Homo sapiens: one gene and its partners. The protein of the gene in region 2 interacts with the protein of the main gene of each other region in a pairwise test. Each region holds a gene or a part of one and is shown on either strand. Other genes may lie near its edges.

Evidence for each region. The genes of interacting proteins can lie anywhere in the genome.
Region 1: the proteins of WBP11 (region 2) and GIGYF2 interact in a two-hybrid assay, tested with the Homo sapiens proteins (one study listed by IntAct).
Region 3: the proteins of WBP11 (region 2) and C5orf22 interact in binary tests that used the Homo sapiens proteins (3 or more experiments, as listed by UniProt).

The regions. Positions count from the first base shown.
Region 1 is NC_000002.12:232,784,306-232,791,333, forward strand, and holds part of GIGYF2 (GRB10-interacting GYF protein 2), read left to right. Parts: intron 1-2,844; coding exon 2,845-3,024; intron 3,025-6,392; coding exon 6,393-6,610; intron 6,611-6,702; coding exon 6,703-6,865; intron 6,866-6,952; coding exon 6,953-7,028. UniProt on the Homo sapiens protein: Key component of the 4EHP-GYF2 complex, a multiprotein complex that acts as a repressor of translation initiation. In the 4EHP-GYF2 complex, acts as a factor that bridges EIF4E2 to ZFP36/TTP, linking translation repression with mRNA decay.
Region 2 is NC_000012.12:14,793,467-14,800,494, reverse strand, and holds part of WBP11 (WW domain-binding protein 11), read left to right. Parts: intron 1-766; coding exon 767-860; intron 861-3,491; coding exon 3,492-3,688; intron 3,689-5,390; coding exon 5,391-5,524; intron 5,525-5,758; coding exon 5,759-5,958; intron 5,959-6,572; coding exon 6,573-6,764; intron 6,765-7,028. UniProt on the Homo sapiens protein: Activates pre-mRNA splicing. May inhibit PP1 phosphatase activity.
Region 3 is NC_000005.10:31,542,276-31,549,303, forward strand, and holds part of C5orf22 (UPF0489 protein C5orf22), read left to right. Parts: intron 1-3,370; coding exon 3,371-3,437; intron 3,438-6,214; coding exon of another isoform or gene 6,215-6,412; intron 6,413-7,028.

The sequences.
Region 1 (7,028 bases), on a different chromosome or scaffold from region 2:
ATTAAATAAAATGAAATTTTAAATTTAGCTGAGTGTGGTGGCATGTGCCTGAGGTTCTAGCTACTTACACGAAATAATTTCTTTTTTTTTTTTTTTTTTTTTGAGACGGAGTCTTGCTCTGTCACCCAGGCTGGAGAGCAGTGGCGTGATCTGGGCTCACTGCAAGCTCCACCTCCCAGGTTCATGCCATTCTCCTGCCTCAGCCTCCTGAGTAGCTTGGGACTACAGGCGCCCGCCACCGCGCCCGGCTAATTTTTTCTATTTTTAGTAGAGATGGGGTTTCATCGTGTTAGCTTGATCTGACCTCGTGATCTGCCCGCCTTAGCCTCCCAAAGTGCTGGGATTACAGGTGTGAGCCACCGCGCCTGGCCACAAAATAATTTATAAAAGCTGCAATATGGTTTTTGATATATCAGATATTACATAATAACTACAATAGATTTAGATTATGACTTCTCTGGTAAACCAAGTGATATAGTTTGGATGTTTGTCCCCTCCAGATCACATGTTGAAATGTGATCGCCAGTGTTGGAGGTGGGGCCTGGTGGGAGGTGTTTGGGTCATGAGGGTGGATCCCTCATCCCCTCCCCACTGTAATGAGTTCAAGAGTCTGGGATCTCTGTCATCTTTCTTGCTCCCTCTCTCACCATGTGACATACTTGCTCTCACTTCACCTTCCACAATGAGTAACAGCTTCCTGAGGTCTCACTGGAAGCCAGACAGATGCTGGTGCCATGCTTGTATAGTCTGCAGAACCACGAGCCAAATAAACAACTTCTTCTTCTTTTTTTTTTTTTAATAAATTACCCAGCCTCAGGTATTCCTTTATAGCCATGCAAAATGGACTAATAAACCAAGGAAAGCCAGAATATAGTTCTGACATTCCAGACACGTCCTGCAGGTAAGAGCAAGGTCATAGATAATAAAACCCTTGCTTGGTGGTTCAAAACAGCAAACATTTATTATCTCAGTTTCTGTGGGTTGGGAATCTAGAAGCAGCTTAGCCTAGCTGGGTGGTTCTGGCCCAGGGTTCTTGTAAGGCTGCACTCAAGGTGTCAGCCCATGCTGCAGTCTCTCAAAGCTCAACTGGGGTTTGATCCACTTCCAGACTCACTCATGTTTCTGGTGGTAAGTCTCAGTTCTTTGCCATGCAAGCTTCTCCACGAGGTCTGTGTCACTACATGGCAACTAGTGTCCTTCAGAGAAAGTGTCCAAGATGGAAACTACAGTCTTCTTTAATATTTTAAGTGGCATCTCATCACTTCAGCTGCATTCTGTTAGTCCAGCTTATAATTGGGGGTAGAGGATTCCACAGAGATCAGCAGTCAGGGATTGTTGGTGAGCTCTTAGAGGCTGTCCACCACAATAAGAAAGCAGCAGATCATGTCTTCCATTCTCCCAAGATATTTTATCTTTCAGTAGAATGATACCTAGTAGCAGACTAACAACCATATGGACAAGCAGGATGCTGAATCTCAATATATGTAAGATGGAATATAACAGAATGACCAGAAATTAGAATTTCATTTTCATATGCTGTTGTTCAATTATTTTTTCACTTTTAGTATGGATTAATTAAAAGGATTGAGTTTGTCATTATGAGAACTTGAACTTTTATTGTTATAAACTGAGGACATCAATGTATGTTATTCTGGATTTTCAACTATTTTGATGTGAGATTTTATAAATGTTATGAGTTATATATGTTAGCACATGTGGAATGGTGACTGAAGAATTTGTTTGCACAATTTAGAATGATCTTGTCCTTTTAAAATACCAGTTTAGTTTACTTGGTATACCAGGCTCTCTTTTGACATTAATGTAACTTTTGAGACATTAGGTTAGACATAGCTTAGCTTTAAATTCTGTCCAAAAGCAATTTATGGTATGCCTGTATTGTATTAGGTGCTAGAGTAAATGAGGTTATACTACTTTTCAATTTTTTTTTTTGAGACGGAGTCTTGCTCTGTCACCCAGGCTGGAGTACAGTGTCGCGATCTCTGCTTACCGCGACCTCCGCCTCCTGGGTTCAAGCCATTCTCCTGCCTCAGCCTCCTGAGTAGCTGGGATTACAGGCACTTGTCACCACACCCAGCTAATTTTTGTATTTTGAGTAGACATGAGGTTTCACCACATTGGCCAGGCTGGTCTCCCAACTCCTGACCTCGTGATCCACCTGTCTCGGCCTCCCAAAGTGCTGGGATTATAGGCGTGAGCCACCACGCGGCCTGCTTTTCAGTTTATAATCTGTTTTGGAATGAAAGACGGCCTGAAATGTACAGATATCATGTTTAGGCAGAATCACCAGTAGGTGTTGGTTATATAAAGTATGTTGTATGATGAAAAATATCTTATAACTTTAAAAAGTATGTGCTAGTAAGGAAGGATTGGCAAGATACACTGTTAGTGAAAACAGCAAACAAAACAACATTTATAACATCCTGAGGGTGGCGTTTGTGTGTGTGGATGAGGGAGCTATGTATACATGTGTAAGTGTACCCATGGACAGTGTTTGGAAAGACTTTATAAGAAACTTGGTGATGGTTCCTTCTGGGGAGTACGACTCTGAGGGTCTTGTGTAGGAAGATGGACTTTTCATTGTACGCTTTTTCAAAAAAAATTTTACATAATATTTTTGTTTAAAAAAATTGCCCAGTCTCTGAACATGGCTTTAAGAAATGTGTCTAATAATATATACATATACCCACTGTTATTTTAGTGATTTTTTTCTGAATATTGAAATGGACCCATTTGCAGGAAAGCTTGATTTGAGCTGTGAAGTTTGTTTTCAAAGCCTATACTGGCAGAGGCTCATGTTTACTTACCATATTATTTTCTTTATAGGGAGACCAAATTTTGAGGAAGGTGGACCAACATCAGTAGGGAGAAAGCATGAATTTATACGCTCAGAAAGTGAAAATTGGCGCATCTTTAGAGAGGAACAAAATGGAGAAGATGAAGATGGAGGTTGGCGACTAGCTGGATCAAGGAGGGATGGAGAGAGGTGGCGACCTCACAGTCCTGGTAAGAATTCTGTTGAGTAAAGGCACACAGGGACTGAAATAAGGGAAAGTTTGATGGAAATAGGGATTAAATGAAAAAGATAAACTGGCTTAAAAAATGTGGGGGTGGATTCATATTATTTATGCTGTCACAGTTTTATTACTAGAAAAAATTGCAACATAAAAATTTCCTACATCTATTCAGTTGATTGAAATCACTTTTCTATTTTTCTGGGGCAAATAGTGTAGTTTAATGGGAAGCACCTGCGCTCAACTGCAGAAATGAGGGTTTCATTCAGTTTTGTCTACCTCTAAATCTCTGAATCTTTTTTAGCATTCTTTAAGATTTATAAATGTGTAAAAATTACACACTTGAAATATGTGCTTCCCTCCCCAACAATGAGTGTTTTTCCTAACAAGAAAGGGTTTATTCTTTCATTTTTTCCCTTTTGAAAATGTGATTTAACCTTATTTGAAGAATAAGCTTTAAACCTAGGTCAGAAACATAATCACAAGTTCATTCTTATGTCCTTCTAACTTTAGAAGAAGGAGAGACAATAGTAGTGATTAGTGGCTTTTAAAGTTCTTCTGTTTGTCTCTTAAAAATGCTCAAACTGTTCTTCTTGGACATTAGATATGCTAGTAATTGAAGACACTAGTGCTTTGTGTTAAAGTTCATCCTGTACCACAGTGCTGATTCCATGCCTCATGATAATCAGATGCAACTGTAGTTCCAATTGTGGGGTCATGCAAAACTGAAGCACACAGAGTATATGTGGAATGCCCTATGAATTTCATGTGTATGACAGTATTTTATCAACCATGTGCCAGAGGGGCTTACCTTTAATACAGGAAATTATGATAAGTAAACTGTTTTCACTTTTAAAAATCAAGTTATTAGCAAAACCACTAGCTTAGATCTGGGTAGACATTATAACAGGCATTCAGAGTATTTTAAGGAAGTGGTAGGTAGATAGAAACATACTGAAGTTAATGTTTGGGTAGAGTTAGGATGGTTTTATACCAACTCTTCATGGCTGCCTCTTGGGTGGGTTTTCTGTCATTAGTGGGCATTGTTTACATCACAAGGTCTAGACAATTTTCATTAGTCTGTGACCTGGGCCAGATGTTATAGTTCTCTAAAAGGCATCACTGCATTTTATGCTGAGCTTGTCCGTAGGCAGAGGGTTTGTAGACTATGTTCCCAACAAGCATTCAGTGAAGAATGGATAGGATCTGGGCTGAGAGAGAAAAGAAATTCCAGCTGGTCAAAAACAAACAAGGTGAATGTTTTGGAAGATGAACTGTGTTTTTTGAGCCCAAATGTCTGATGTTGATTCTATTAAAGGGAGTTTAACAAAGTACCTCCCACCCAACAACTTAGAATTTGGTTATATATTATCTTCTTCTCATCTTTTCTGAATCTTTCTTTCCCCCTAATATTTGACTTTCATATCATTTTTGTCATCAACTTGTGTATCTTCCAGAACTTTTAATCCATATACATATATATTTTTTCAGTCACACCTGTGGCTGAAATCCATATATTTTTAAAAGACAGTTTGGGGGATATAAAGATCCCCCAAATATAAAGTTTGGGTCTGAAAAAACAGTGTAAATGCATTTTAAAAAAGAATACGATTCACTTTTTAAACCCAGTATATTCAAAGTATAGCCTGATTATAGCAGTTTTCATATGTTAACTCTTAACGTTTGTTAGTTTATGGTTAATCTTTTATTAAGATTTGAGTAAAACTTTAAATTATTTTAACTGATTTTATGAAAATAGTATCCAACTTTAGTTTAGATGTAGGGTCTGTAAATCAGCAGTCAGCCTTAATAAGTACCTTGCATGTCTTACTTGCTATGTTTAGTTTCGTGAGTAAAATTTTATGAACTACTGATAAGATAACATTATGGGATATAAAATAGGGCTTCCGGCTGGATGTGCGTGGGGGTGGGAACATTAAGGACAGGGAGGCATCCAGTCTGGGAGCTGAACCTAGGAAAGTCAGTAAGAGGAGAAACATGAGCCAGGTACCTAGAAGGATAGATTCCTGTCATGATGTACATTTAGACTGTTAGAAATGAAAGCAGTACAGAGGGCTCTGGAATTCATTTGATCATGAAGACTCTTTTCACATAATGGCTCTAGGTTTCCACGTAAGCAGTCTGAGTATAAAATTCCTTAGTTCTCATAGGAAGTAGTAAATAGTGTTTTGTTGTTTTTATATGAAGGGATGGGAGTGTGGGACTAAGATTTCTTTTTTGTGAGTGGCTTATCAGATGCTACCTGTATTTGGCATTTTAACGTTTTGCCCTTTGTTTTCCAATTTGATTTTTAGATTGCTGGTTTTTGCAAAGTTTGTCTCAATAGTGAGAACATTTAACTCTGGCCACATTTCTTTTTCTTATCCCCCACAGAGAAAGCAGTCAAGGATGGAAAATTCTAATAGGTTAAAGCCTGCTTTTCTTTTTAAGACTCTTTTAGACTCAGGTCTGTCAGATTTTAGCAAGAGTTTCCCTTTCTTTTTTTTAGAAAAATATCTTAAGTAGGATCTCTTATTATTAGGCAATCTTTTCTTCTGTTGGGAAATGTAGATTTGGGAATGTCCGTAGGGGTATTATATGGATAGGGAGAATTAAGAGATGAGAAAGAAGGGAGAGGAGTAAGTATGTTATTGTGGAACAAGCAGCAGAGGGTGCAGAATTGGATTTTAGTTCTACTTTGCCATGTGCGAGTTACTTCTGCTGGCAAAGTTTTAGTTTCTTCTTAAACTATAAAATTAGGATAGTGAACTTCATAAAATCTCTGTGACAACTTTCAGCACTGTAATTTTGTGAATTTTTGGGGGAGGATCAGAATTACAAGTGGGAACCTGGCATTAATAAATAGTCATGATGAGTTTGATATAAGTCAACACAGGGAGCTGATTTTATCCACAAACAATGATATTTTCATGGGAAGAAAGAAAATGCTTTAAGATTGGGCAAAAGGAAGGTGTAAACTTCAGTATGGAAGGATGTCTAGTGCATTAAGTCTGGATGAGGAGTTGGCGGCTAATCAGTATTTTAATCAAGTACCTAGGACTTACTGAAAGTGCGTACTTGGAATACAGTGTCCTTTAAATGTACTGCATTTTAGATTTATCTTTTAAAGCTTTAGAGTATGTTGCCTGGCTCAGTACTTAAGTACTGTTGTCATCTCGTAATGGTACATATACTCTGAACTCTGAACTTCATTTAGTTGCCTAATGTTCTCTTTACTAGGTCAGTCCATTTGAGTTTGCGGTCACTTGTAGTTTTCTCCTTTATTTTCTATTCCTGATTTTCTTATTCAAATACTGTCATAAAACTTTTCTAAGGTTTGTGTCCTCCTTCTCATCTCAGATGGCCCTCGTTCTGCAGGCTGGCGGGAACACATGGAACGACGTCGGAGGTTTGAGTTTGATTTTCGAGATAGAGATGATGAACGGGGTTACCGAAGGGTTCGCTCTGGCAGTGGGAGCATAGATGATGACAGGGATAGCTTGCCCGAATGGTGCTTAGAGGATGCTGAAGAAGAAATGGGTACATTTGACTCATCTGGAGCATTCCTTTCTCTAAAAGTAAGAAACGTGTTTTAAATGTCATGACCAGCATTAACCTTATACCAAAGCCAAATCTGCTGTTGATCTTTGGTTTTATTCTCTTTCTACAGAAAGTACAGAAAGAGCCTATTCCAGAAGAGCAGGAGATGGACTTCCGGCCTGTGGACGAAGGGGAGGAGTGCTCTGACTCTGAGGGTAGCCATAATGAAGAGGCCAAAGAACCCGATAAGACAAATAAGAAAGAAGGAGAGAAAACAGATAGAGTAGGAGTTGGTAAGGCCTCTTCTTGCCCTTTGCCTTTTTTTTCCTCCATCAAACCAAAACTTTCGTAAGTTCAACTAAGATTACTTCGTGTTCCAGAAGCTAGTGAGGAAACTCCCCAGACCTCATCATCATCTGCTAGACCAGGTACTCCTTCAGACCATCAGTCTCAGGA
Region 2 (7,028 bases):
TCTTTTTTTTACTCATTAAAACATAACTGTTTTAAAGTCTACTGATGAGGATGGAAATAAACATGATGCTAGATAGCTTTATCCATTTTCCTGATTAGCTGTCTATTACATATATTACATTAGCTTAAATATATATATGTAGGTTTATAATATTTATAGATATATTAGATTTATATATCCATTTTCCCAATTAGCATTCTCCTCTTAGCTGTTGAATTTGTGGCAAAGTACTTCAAAAGAATTAGAAAGGATTTGCCTTATAGTATTGTGCTTTATAGTATTATAGTATAATACATTGAAGCAACACAGATTTTAAATAATGTTCGATTGTGTTTTCATGTTTAGCATTAACTCCTGCAAAATTTTTAAATATTCTTTATATAATTTTAGAATTTAGCTTCAACCTTTGCTTTGGACTTCAACTAGCAGAGGTTTTACAACAGGGGGCAGGAACAATCACCCAAGGTCTTCAAGAACATAAGGGGTTAAAAAAAAGAAATTTAAAGTGTATGTGTGTTTAAGTAACTGCTAAAGATCTCAGAGTTCAAAGAAATACTTTACTAAGAAAGCACATCTTAAAAATAGCATTTCTTTATCTTTTTGACAAGTGTAAACATTTTTAAGGCAAAAAATTACATAGCTGTTTCTGGTGGTTGAAACAAGTGATCAGAAGCCAAGGAGTTATTCTGTTTAGATTCTTAAAGCAAGTTGAAGTAAAACTCCTGAGTGCCTGACTTCTTGACATCTGCCCTTTTATTTTTCTAAGAACAAAAAACAGCGCATGATGGTTCGAGCTGCAGTTTTAAAGATGAAGGATCCAAAACAGATAATCCGAGACATGGAGAAATTGGATGAAATGGGTAAGAATTTACAAACAGGCAGCTATAACAGTCTGACACGTACAGAGGCAGGCAGGTAACGAGTGAAGCAGCATAGGCGTAAGTAAAACAGAACAGCATGATGGCATTTGATGCTTGGATTTAATGTTAGTTTCAGGGAGACAAAATGGAGTGCTAGAGGGCTGTTGCAAACTGGAGACCCCAGATACCAGAATAAGAGGGAAGCGATTATTTGGCTTTCAGTTAATTGTTATTGTGAGATAACAGAAGCACAGTTTGGCCAGCTTGCTTTTTGGGAGAAGACTTAATCTGATTTATGAAATAACCTTGGGTTTTTTGTTTGTCGTCTTTTATTTAATGTTGGCAACTACCATGTAAATCTAAGTATTAGGCCCCTGTGAATATAAGGCAATTTCCAATTTTTCCAATCAGAAGATCCAAAAAGATACTTATCCATTTAGTAAGGATATAGAAAAAAATCATCAAATACCTAAAAACCAAATAATAAAATACTATACCAGGATTCTCTGCCTTTTTCACATTTTATAGAATAGTTTTATTCACTCTTCATATGCATTTTAAGTATCGCTGCTTTGTTATAACTGGAATCACATGAAATAGCTGCATGTTATCTTTTTTTGCATCTAAGTTTGAAAATCATTGATGTTGCCACTGGAAATTTTATCCTAACCCACAAATATCCATTCTGTTTAATATTAGAACATGTAGAATATTTTGTTTTTTTAATAGAAATTTTCAAACATGCAAGAAAATAAAATAGTCTAGTTAACTTCCATGTGCTTTTCACCTGTCAAGTTTCTGCCACTTTGTCTTCTACCCTTTGCCACTTTTGTAAAATAGCATTTTAAAGTGATCGTTACAAGTTCCATGTTTTGCCCAAAAACAGAGTAGTAAGTAAAAGAGATGGAATGAAACTCCTCAATGATACATTAAATGGGGTACAAAAAAAAAATTCAGTCATGGCATTAGGCTATTACAAGGTTTCTGAAATAATGTGGGAGAATCTGTGCAGCTAGCCTGGCTAAGAGTTCTGGGTCAGGCTTCAGGATCCCAGATATTTCCCAGTTCAGTTGTAACTGATTCCACTTCCTGCCTCTGGTCTAAATATCAGCAGGGATAATTACTTTCCTTGGGGAATCAGGGAATCCTTCTTTAAATGACCCCAAATGTTATGTGTTGTTTTAAAAGGAGATAATAGGAATAACTGAGGTTTCTTGAGTAGTTGTCTTGCTATACACCTACGCACCAGTTTTTTTCCACCAGTTTTCTAATCGTCACAATTTTTTAGGGTAGGTGCACTGTCCCTATTATACAGGTAAGAAAACTCAGGCATGGAGAGATTACATAGCTTTCCTCAAGGTCACACTGCTATGTAGTGGCAAAGCTGAGATTAAAACTCAGGCATTCAGCGCTTTTACTAATCACACTAGGATTAGTATGGTGTAAGAATACGCCCTCTGGATTTGAATAAATTGCCAAGATTAATAATAGTTAATAGGATTTAAGGAAGAAGATAAATTTGTTATTCTTTTAAGAAAAAGGAAAGGGGTGAAGAGAATACTATTCATCAGGGGTCTAGTTACAATTTATAAAACTCAATACAGACTAGTTAAGGCAGAAAAAAGCATGCATTGGCTGTCTTAATTAAGAAGTCTTAACATAAAAAAAAGATGAGAAATCCCTGAGAGAAACTAGCCTCAAAATCCAGTCTCATCATCAGTACTGTCCATCTGTCTAGTCTGATGTCTGTTAGCCTCATTCAGCTTACTACTAATGAACTCCTTGGGATAGAAGGTGGAATATATGTGTGTAATTAGTGATGATTGAGAGACAAGGCCACAGGCAGCTCTAGGTTTGTTTTCTCTCTACATAACACATTCAGAAAGAAAATCTGAGAGCTTATCTCTCTCACATCTACATTTAAAATCTCAGGGAATGTTCTGGTCCCAGTTTGGATCATGTGCTAATTGATCTCTGAGTCATTCACTGAAAAGGAAGATGGGGGGATATGATTGACCAGGCAGGCCTGGAGGTCTTATTCTTGGGATAGAGGACCTGCAGTTAAGCCCCATATTGACACATGATTAGTTAGGGAGAGAAAGGATTGTATAGTAGCTAGGCCAGGAATACGGATCTGTTATAAAGATTATAGTTAAGTGGTGAGTCAAACACCACTGGATATTTTATTTGTAATCCCATTGTATCATCATAGCTTTATTACAAAGTGATTAACGTCTCCATTTTTTAGATGAGGAAGCAAAAAATCAGAGAATTCAAGTAAAATGCTTAAGATCTCAAAATTTGACAGGACTAACGTAGTAGGTAAACACAAATCTGACAGAATCTTCACGAGGTTTTCAGCACAGAGCAGTGAAAATTGATTTTTATTACAATGAAGATGAAAGTCAATTAGGTGGCATTTCTGAGAAAGGTAAAATTAGTGGCCATCTAAAAAGGGTGGGGATTTTAATAAATATTGTAGTTCTTCGAATAAAATTGAAAAGAGTATGTCTGGTGTCTAGATCTCTTAAAAATTTTTTAGCATATATGGAGGTTTTTATCATGTAACCTATTGATACCTAATTGAAGTGGCCTCTTATATTTAATTCCATAATCTACTTTTTCTCTTAGAGTTTAACCCAGTGCAACAGCCACAATTAAATGAGAAAGTACTGAAAGACAAGCGTAAAAAGCTGCGTGAAACCTTTGAACGTATTCTACGACTCTATGAAAAAGAGAATCCAGATATTTACAAAGAATTGAGAAAGCTAGAAGTAGAATATGAACAGAAGAGGGCTCAACTTAGCCAATATTTTGATGCTGTCAAGGTAATCAAGGTTTTTTTTTTGAGAGATAAACTAAAATATTATACAGATTGAGTATCCCTTATGCAAAGTGCTTGGGACCAGAAGTGTTTTGGATTTAGGGTTGTTGGGTTTTTTTTATATTTTGTTTTGTTTTTGTGTATATTTGCATATATTTTGGGGATGGAACCCTAGTCTAAGCATGAAATTTATGTTTCATATACACATAGCCTGAAGATAATTTTATAAATTTTGTGCATGAAACAAAACTACGACCCATCACATTAGGTCAGGTGTGGATTTTTCCACCATGGCATCATATGGGAGTCAAAAAGTTTAGGATTTTGGAGCATTTTAGATATTCAGATTAGGGATGCTCAGCCTATACTTAGATTTAAAAAGTTAATGGGAGAATGTCATGTTGAACCTCTTCCTTATAGCAGTTTCTTCTAAAACTAAACATATACCTACTGTGTGAACCTGCAAATCTAATCCTCTTTATTTAAACAGAAGAAATTAATTCAAAAACTTGGATCAGCCTAAGTGTTCACTAATAGGATAATGGATAATTAAACTGTAGCATATTTATACAATAGAATACTATTCAGCAATAAAAGGAATAATCTAATACTCAAAACAGCATGGAATAAAAAAAGAAAAATTGTGAGTAAATCTCAAAAACATGCTAAGTTTATCTCATTGTTATGATTTCATTTTTATGAAATTCTAGAATAGTCACAGATAATCTGTGCAGGAAAAAAAAATGTAGCCGTGGTTGCCTTGGGGGATGATATTAGAGATGGATTGGGAAGGAGTATGAGGTATATGCATTTGTCAAAACTTACTGAATTTGTAAATTTCGTAAATTTTACCTCAAAATAAAGATGGGAAAAAATCAAATGCTATAATTTCTGTAAAGGAGGTAATATGTCTCCCATTTTACAGATGAAGGCACAGGTTACCTTGCTTAGTCAAACTAAGCTAATACACAACAGAAATTCAACATAGGCAAGCTAATGAGCCCAACCTCCACCACTGGATATATACTATTTGTTAGTTGACATATATTATTTTTCTTTTTTTTGTTTATTTTTTGTTTTTGAGACCGAGTCTCACTCTGTTGCCCAAGCTGGAGTGCAGTGGCACCATCTTGGCTCACTGCAACCTCTGCCTCCCAGGTTCAAGCAATTCTCCTCCCTCAGCCTCCTGAGTAGCTGGGACTACAGGCACACGCCACCACAACTGGCTAATTTTTGTAGTTTTATTAGAGATGGAGTTTCACCATATTGGCCAGGCTGGTCTCAAACTCCTGAGCTTGTGATCGACCTGCGTCAGCCTCCCAAAATGCTCGGATTACAGGTGTGAGCTACCACGCCCAGCCTGACATGTATTTTTCTATCACATGTTAAATAGGGTAGTTCTGGTGCTAGATACTTGTAACAGTTGGCTTTCTCTAGACAACAGCTGTTTCGAATCATCCAAAAAGAATTACCTGATAAGAGGAGAAAAAAAACAGCTGGGTTCTGACGTTTTTAGAAGTAAAGATTTCTTTCAGTTCTTTGACAATGTGGAAGTATTGACGTAAGGTTATTTTTCTGGGGGTTTTTGGTGATATTTATGTTAGTTGGAAAGCATGTCCAAGTTACGAAACAGCTGACTTGTCATTTTTAGTGTTTAGTTAGTAGATGACTTTTTTATCATACTACTGAATGGTTCTCTGTTTCAGAATGCTCAGCATGTGGAAGTGGAGAGTATTCCTTTGCCAGATATGCCACATGCTCCTTCCAACATTTTGATCCAGGACATTCCACTTCCTGGTGCCCAGCCACCCTCTATCCTAAAGAAAACCTCAGCCTATGGGTAAGGAAGCAGTGTCACAATCAGAGAGCATTTAGTAAAGGCACAAGTTGACTGTCCAGTGCCAAAATTAATGCAGAGGGAAATAAAAGACAATATGGATGTAAACAGTGTGACATTTGATTAAATGTAAAATAAGAAATCCCTTGAAAATTGTTTAGAAGAGAAAATAAATATCTCATTACTGTTAAGTGATTACTGTGGGGGTTTTTTTGTTTTTGTTTTTTTTTTTAACAGACCTCCAACTCGGGCAGTTTCTATCCTTCCTCTTCTTGGACATGGTGTTCCACGTTTGCCCCCTGGCAGAAAACCTCCTGGCCCTCCCCCTGGTCCACCTCCTCCTCAAGTCGTGCAGATGTATGGCCGTAAAGTGGGTTTTGCCCTAGATCTTCCCCCTCGTAGGCGAGATGAAGACATGTTATATAGTCCTGAACTTGGTGAGAAGTGACTGTTCTTTTGCTTTTATAACTATCATTTTTTATGTTGGCCCTGTTTAACATATTGTTCACCACCCTCAGAACTTAGAAAGTAAATGAGAGGGTATCATGTACATAACTAATATACATACAGTTGGATAAATCATAGGATCTTCTCAAGTAAAAGCATCATACATAAGTATAGAAATGTTTATCGTGTTTTAAATTAGGCTTTTCCTGGAGATGTCACTCTTGCTGCTAATCCTTTAAGACTTGTATATCTGGTTCCCTTTTAGCTTTATTGTCATCAGACTAGAGCGTCATTGTATACATTCACTGACTGTGTATGTGTATACAAACATGATTGTTGCTAAAGGAGGAAATGGGTTTTCAAATTAGAACTCTTTTTAAAAAAATCTTAAATTACCAAAAAGAAGTGTTTAAAATTATTGGCAGAGGAAAATTTTGTTAGACTGTATGAGTAGCTATATATACAAGAATTTTTTTTTTTTTTTTTTGGTAAGAATTAAGTTGTTACAGTCTGAGTTGAATAGCATAATTTTCTGTATTTCTGGGTACCATGTAGTGGAGGGTCCAATCATACTACTTCTCCATGTTCCCTTCCCACTTTTCAGCCCAGCGAGGTCATGATGATGATGTTTCTAGCACCAGTGAAGATGATGGCTATCCTGAGGACATGGATCAAGATAAGCATGATGACAGTACTGATGACAGTGACACCGACAAATCAGATGGAGAAAGTGACGGGGATGAATTTGTGCACCGTGATAATGGTGAGAGAGACAACAATGAAGAAAAGAAGTCAGGTATGTGCAGATGAAGGATTCATGGTATTGATCAATAAAGAGAAAACAAGCTGAAGGTCCTAATTTATTAATGAATCTGTGAGAGTACTCTGAAATCTTTGGAAGTCGGGATCATAGCTGTGTTCATCTTATATATTAAAATTTTGAAAGTTTTTGACACAGTAAGTACTCAGTGGATGTTTATGAGGAAAAGCATTAAACTGTATGTAATAAAAATGTCTATGTAATAAAGTTCACTTTGGGGTAAAAGGTATAACTATTCAA
Region 3 (7,028 bases), on a different chromosome or scaffold from region 2:
CAGTCTCTACTAAAAATACCAAAAAAAAAAAAAAATTAGCCGGGCATAGTGGTGGGCGCCTGTAGTCCCAGCTACTCGGGAGACTGAGGCAGGAAAATGGCGTGAATCCGGGAGGCGGAGCTTGCAGTGAGCCGAGATTGCATCACTGCACTCCAGCCTGTGGAGACTGGACTTTTTCTGAGACTCCGTCTCAAAAAAAAAAAGCGAAAACTTAGCTTCTTTTAAGGAAAACCCAAACACAAGTGGAAGGGTATTTTCAATCTCTTGACGTGAAGGAGCAGTATTTGAAGGCTAGATTCTCCATCAGGTAATTTATTTGACTGGCTGTTCATATCACCTTGAAAGAATGGAGAGAGAAGTTCTTTTTGAGTGAAAGCCTTTGGTATTGAAGCTGGAGTGAAAGAATATTGACATAAATATTACAGTGATTTTTCTCTAAAATAATTCTTAAATCATGTAATCTCAAACAGCCAGAAAACTAAAATAAAACCATCAGACAAACTTTTTGTCCCCATGAGCATAGGAAAACCAGAACTAGCTTATTTTAAAACTAATCTCCCACGAACTGTCATATTATTCTCTCTGGTGTAAACAAAAGAAAATCAGTTGTAAGGTAGCAAGATAAAACGGGAAATTAGAATCAATAGTACTTTAGGCCAGAACATGAACAGCCACTAAGATTTGTCATGTTTTGGTTATTAAAAATAATTCAGCAGATCTCTAGAAGAATATGGAAAAAGCTGAAACAGTGGTTGCCTCTGGGGAGAGGAATTCTATGGCTAAATGATGAAGTATATGAGTGAGAAATTACTTCTTTTGCTATGTGCACGTATTATCTATTCAAAATACTCATTGTAATTTTTACTTAAAATATTCAGAAACATCCCTAAAATGTAAACATCATAAAGCTTTAATTATTGACACTAACAAAGCAGTGATGTGGAAGAATAATTCACAGTAATATTAATCACATCAGTAAGTATTGATTAGGCACTTTAACATCAGTTAATGGCCGGGCGTGGTGGCTCACCTCTGTAATCTGAGCACTTTGGGAGGCCAAGGTGGGCAGATCGCCTGAGCTCAGGAGTTCGAGACCAGCCTGGGTGACATGGTGAAATCCTGTCTCTACAAAAAAATACAAAAAATTAGCCAGGCATGGTGGCATGCACCTGCGGCCCCAGCTACTTGGGAGGCTGAGGTGGGAGGATCACTTGAGCCTGGGAGGTCAAGGCTGCAGTGAGCTGAGATCGCACCACTGCTCTCCAGCCTGGGTGACAGAGGGAGACCCTGTCTCAAAAAAAGAAAGAAAAAAAAATCAGTTAATGCTTTTTCCTCTTCAGTATAGGGTTCTAAAATGATTCCCTGTTTTTTGAAATGATAGAAGAGGGAGATAGAAAAATAAGTCACAGGACAGGAGTCTTCCTAGAAATACTGAAAAATACCTATTATTTTGTTATTTCATGAAGTCTCAAGCTAAGTTTAAAACTTCAACAACAACAAAATAGGCCTGGAAACCTTGGAATCCTAAGTCCAGCCCACAGACTTCCACTGAAACCCACTCTGCCTACTGAGCATGCCCAGTTAGCTCCTCATCACCAGCAGAGAGTTCTATCACAGACTTGAAAATATGATGAGACTGCAACAGTAGTGAGTTTAGACTGTGCTTGGTATTGAAGGGAGAAAAAAAATAGCATAAAGGAAAAGTAGATGACACTGAAAGAAAAGTCTCCCCAAACCAACCATGACCCTAAAGAGCCAGACCCTCGGCATGGAGGCTTCGCTATGTCTAGGGAAGTGAGGTGGGTGTTTAGGGTCCAGAAGCCTAGAAAATGTCATTAATTAAAAGGAAAAAGTAACAGGACAAGTGGGCAAGCAGGCAGGCCTCCATGCCTCCTTTTTTCTTTCTTTTTTTACTCCCAGCAAATTCGTGAATATTTGTGGAGGAGGAATTAAAACACTAGAAGCATTAGCCAATCAGAGCTTCCAAAAGGTCCACCTAAACTTAATACCTTAAAAGCATCAATGTGGCCGGGCGCGATGGCTCACGCCTGTAATCCCAGCACTTTGGGAGGCCAAGGCGGGCGGATCATGAGGTCAGGAGATCGAAACCATCCTGGCTAACACGGTGAAACCCCGTCTCTACTAAAAAATAAAAAAAATTAGCCGGGCGTGGTGGCGGGCACCTGTAGTCCCAGCTACTTGGGAGGCTGAGGCAGGAGAATGGCGTGAACCTGGAAGGCGGAGCTTGCAGTGAGCCGAGATCGTGCCACTGCACTCCAGCCTGGGCAACAGAGTGAGACTCTTGTCTCAAAAAAAAAAAAAATGCATCAATGTTATATCAGATGATGTAGGATTTTTCCGATTATAATTGTATTTACTGGCTAGGCCTGGGTTCACACCTGTAAAATCCCAACACTTGGGAGGCTAAGGTGGAAGGCTTACTTGAGGCCAAGAGTTAAGACCAGTCTGGGCAACATAGCAAGACCCTATCTCTACAAAAAGATTTTAAAATTAGTTGGGTGTGGTGGTGTTCACTTATAGTCCCAGCTACTCGGGAGGCTGAAGTGGGAGATTCCTTAAGCCCAGGAGTTCGAGGCTGCAGTGAGCCATGATCACACCACTGCCCTGTAGCCTGGGTGGTAGTGAGATCCTGTCTCAATAGTAATAATAATTGTATATACAAATAAACGTGTCCTTAATTTTTTTTTTTTTTTTTTAGCTTTCAGGAAACAGCCTTTTTTCATCACAGTGTGCTAAAAACACTTAGTTTTCTTGCTAATCAAAATAATTTTTTTTTTTTTTGAGACAGTTTCACTCTTGTCACCCTGGCTGGAGTGCAATGGTGCGGCCTCAGCTCACTGCAAACTCCGCCTCCTGGGTTCAAGCAATTCTCCTGCCTCAGCCTCCCGAATAGCTGGGATTACAGGCATGCACCACCACACCTGGCTAATTTTGTATTTTTAGTCGAGACAGGGTTTCACCACATTGGCCAGGCTGGTCTCGAACTCCTGACTTCAAGTGATCCGCCCGCCTCGGCCTCCCAAAGTGCTGGGATTATAGGCATGAGCCACCGCACCTGGCCTCAAAATAATTTTTAAAGTCAGTAGAACTTCCCATTTTTGAAGAAGAAATCTCATTTTCTTGAATGCTCACTTTTAGTCTTTAACACAATGTGTAATCTTTTGGGTAAGAAAACAGGAAACATTTATTTCTTAATATTTTAAGATATTTGAACAGCTTTATCTTTTATTTCCCAAGTGCCATATGAAGCATGTTATTATGGTAAATGTTAGTATAATGTATAATTTGCTATTATCATTTTAGTTGTGGTGGTTGTGATGTTTAATTGAGTGGGATGGCTTTTTTCCAGAATGGAATCACTAGTTCCCCTTGTACAGAGTTTGAAAAAACGGATGGAAGTACCAGACTATGAAATGGTAAATATTTTATATTAATGTGTAAAATTGACCCTTTGTAAAGACAATTTTCTGGGTAGAAGAATTTCCTTTTTGTTAAAGTGGTTCGTTTTTGTTTGTGTTCCTGTGAAGTCTGAAACAATTATTAAGAAAAGAAATGAGTGAAAAAAATACATACGTTGAAACAGAATACTGTTTTCCTGGAAAAGTCTTCCAGGAAAAACTTTTTTTTCTCAATTTTATGTATGAAGCAAAAGTCCTGTGTGTTTTTTGTAATTTTGTCTGTGGTCGGATCTCTCTTCACCAGACAAAAGAAAAGTACACAATTTCTAAAATGGTCCATTTTTTATTGATGAGTATTTATACTGCCTTCTGCCTTCCTTCTTTTCCTCCCTATTTAAAAACTTTTCCGTTTGTAAAAACCACAAGACAAAGAAAAAAGAGAGAGCTGTGACTAGCACATTTTAAATGTGTTAGCTGTTTGTCAACAGGTATCTGAATGCTATGGCCAAAGATACTTTTAGTCATAATTTATTTGTATATCATTTTGCAGTCTTTGAAGCATATATTTTCCCATTTGACCTGGTACTTGAGATGAGAAAGCTATAGCTTAAAATGTTCAAGTGACTTTTCTCAGATTTGATGCCAGGGCTAAGACTTCCAAGTCTCCTTCCTCTTAGTGTGGTCTTTCTCTTACTTCAGTAAGCTGGGTTTGCATATTTTATTTACTTATGGAATACAGTCAGACCACTGTGTTTGACTAAAGTTGAAGTATTGATTTAAGTATTGATTGAATTTATAAGAATTTGCTGGTACTCTTTAAAATAAGAGATGTCTATTTTCACACTGCTGATAAAGACATACCTGAGACTGGGCAATTTACAAAAGAGATTTAATGGACTTACAGTTCCATATGATTGGGGAGACCTCATAGTCATGGCGGAAGGTGAAAGGCAGGTCTCACATGGTGGCAGACAAGAGAGAGAGCTTGTGCAGGGAGACTTTTGTTTTTAAAACTGTGAGATCTCGTGAGACTCATTCACTATCATGAGAACAGCACAGGAAAGACCCACCCCTACAATTCAATCACCTCCCATCGGCTTCCTCCCACTACATGTGGGAATTGTGGGGGTTACAATTCAAGATGAGATTTGGATGGGGACACAGCCACACCATATCATTCCATCCTTAGCCCCTCCCAAATCTCCTGTTCTCGAATTTCAAAACCAATCCTGCCTTCCCAACAGTCCCTCAAAGTCTTAACTTATTTCAGCATTAACTCAAAAGTCCACAGTCCAACATCTCATCTGAGACAAGGCAAGTCCCTTCCACCTATGAGCCTGTAAAATCAAAAGCAAGTTAGTTACTTCCTAGATACAATGGATGTACAAGAATTGGGTAAATACAACCGTTCTAAATGGGAGGAATTGGCCCAAAGGGGCAGTGCAAGTCTGAAGTCCATCAGGGCAGTCAAATCTTAAAGCTCCAAAACGATCGTCTTTGACTCCATGTCTCACATCCAGGTCACGCTGATGCAAGAGGTGGGTTCGCATTGTCTTGGGCAGTTCTGCCCCTGTGGCTTTGCGGGATACAACCTCCCTCCTGGCTGTTTTCATGAGCTGGTGTTGAGTGTCTGCAGCTTTTCCAGGCACACAGTACAAGCTGTCAGTGGATCTACCATTCTGGGATCTGGAGGACGGACAGTGGCCCTCTTCTCACAGCTCCACTAGGCAGTGCCCCTAGGGACTCTCAGTGGGGATCCGACCCCACATTTCCCTTCCACACTGCCCTAGCAGGGGTTCTCCATGAGGGGCCTGCCCCTGCAGCAAACTTCTGCCTGGGCATCCAGGTGTTTCCATACATCTTCTGAAATCTGGGCAGAGGTTCCCAAACCTCAATTCTTGACTTCTGTGCACTCACAGGCTTGATCAACACCACAAGGAAGCTGCCAAGGCCATCCTCTGAAACCACAGCCCGAGCTCTATGTTGGCCCCTTTTAGCCATGGCTGGAATGGCTGAGACACAGGACACCAAGTCCCTAGGCTGTACACAGCACTGGGACCCTGGGCCCTGCCCATGGAACAATTTTTTCCTCCTAAATCTTCAGGCCTGTGATGGGAGGGGCTACCGCAAAGGTCTCTGACATGCCCCAGATACATTTTCCCTATTGTCTTGGGGATTAACATTTGGCTCCTCGTTACTTATGCAAATTTCTGCAGCCAGCTTGAATTTCTCCTCAAAAAATGGAATTTTCTTTTCTTTAACATTGTCAGGCTGCAAATTTTCCAAACTTTTATGCCCTGTTTCTCTCTTAAAACTGAATGCCTTGGCCAGGCACAGTGGTTCACGCCTATAATCCCAGCACTTTGGGAGGCCAAGGCTGGCGGATCATTTGAGGCCAGGAGTTCAAGACCAACCTGGCCAACATGTTGAAACCCCGTCTCTACTAAAAATACAAAACTTAGCTGGGTGTGGCAGTGCACACCTGTAATCCTAGCTACTCAGGAGGTTAAGGCAGAGAATCGCTTGAACCTGAGAGGCAAAGGCTGCAGTGAGCCGAGATGGTACCACTGCACTCCAGCTTGGGTGACAGAGCGAGACTCCATTTCAAAAAAAAAAAAAACTGGATGCCTTTAACAGCACCCATGTCACCTCTTGAATGCTTTGCTGCTTGGCAGTTTCTTCCACCAGATATGCTAAATCATCTCTCAACTTCAAAGTTCCACACATCTCTAGGGCAGGGGCAAAATGCCACCAGTCTCTTTGCTAAAATATAACAAGAGTCACCTTTGTTCCAGTTCCCAGCAAGTTCTTCATCTCCATCTGAGACCACCTCAGCCTGGATTTCATTGTCCATGTCATTATCAGCATTTTGGTCCAAGCCATTCAACAAGTCTCTAGGAAGTTCCAAACTGTCCAACATTTCCCTGCCTTCTTCTGAGCCCTCCAAACTGTTCCAACCTCTGCCAGTTCCAAAGTTGCTTCCACATTTTCAGGTATCTTTTCAACAGTGCTCCACTCTACTGGTACCAATTTACTGTATTAGTCTGTTTTCACGCTGCTGATAAAGACATACCCAAGACTGGGCAATTTACAAAAGAAAGAGATTTAATGGACTTAGTGTTCCACATGATTGGAGAGGCCTCACAATCATGGCAGAAGGTGAAAGGCACATCTCACATGGCAGCAGACAAGAAGAGAGAGCTTGTGCAGCGAGACTTGTGTTTTTAAAACCATCAGATCTCCAGCCGGGCATAGTGGCTCACATCTGTAATCCCAGCATTTTGGGAGGCCGAAGCGAGCAGATCACCTGAGATCGGGAGTTCGAGACCAGCCTGACCAGCATGGAGAAACCCCATCTCTATGAAAAACACAAAATTAGCCGGGCGTGGTGGCGCATCCCTGTAATCCCAGCTACTCGGGAGGCTGAGGCAAGAGAATCGCTTGAACCCAGGAGGTGGAGTTTGCAGTGAGCCAAGATCATGCCATTGTACTCCAGCCTGGGCAAAAAGAGTGAAACTCTGTCTCAAAAAAAGTAAATAAATAAAACTGTCAGATCTCCTGATACTCATTCGCTATCATGAGAACAGTGCAGGAAAGACCCACCCCCAC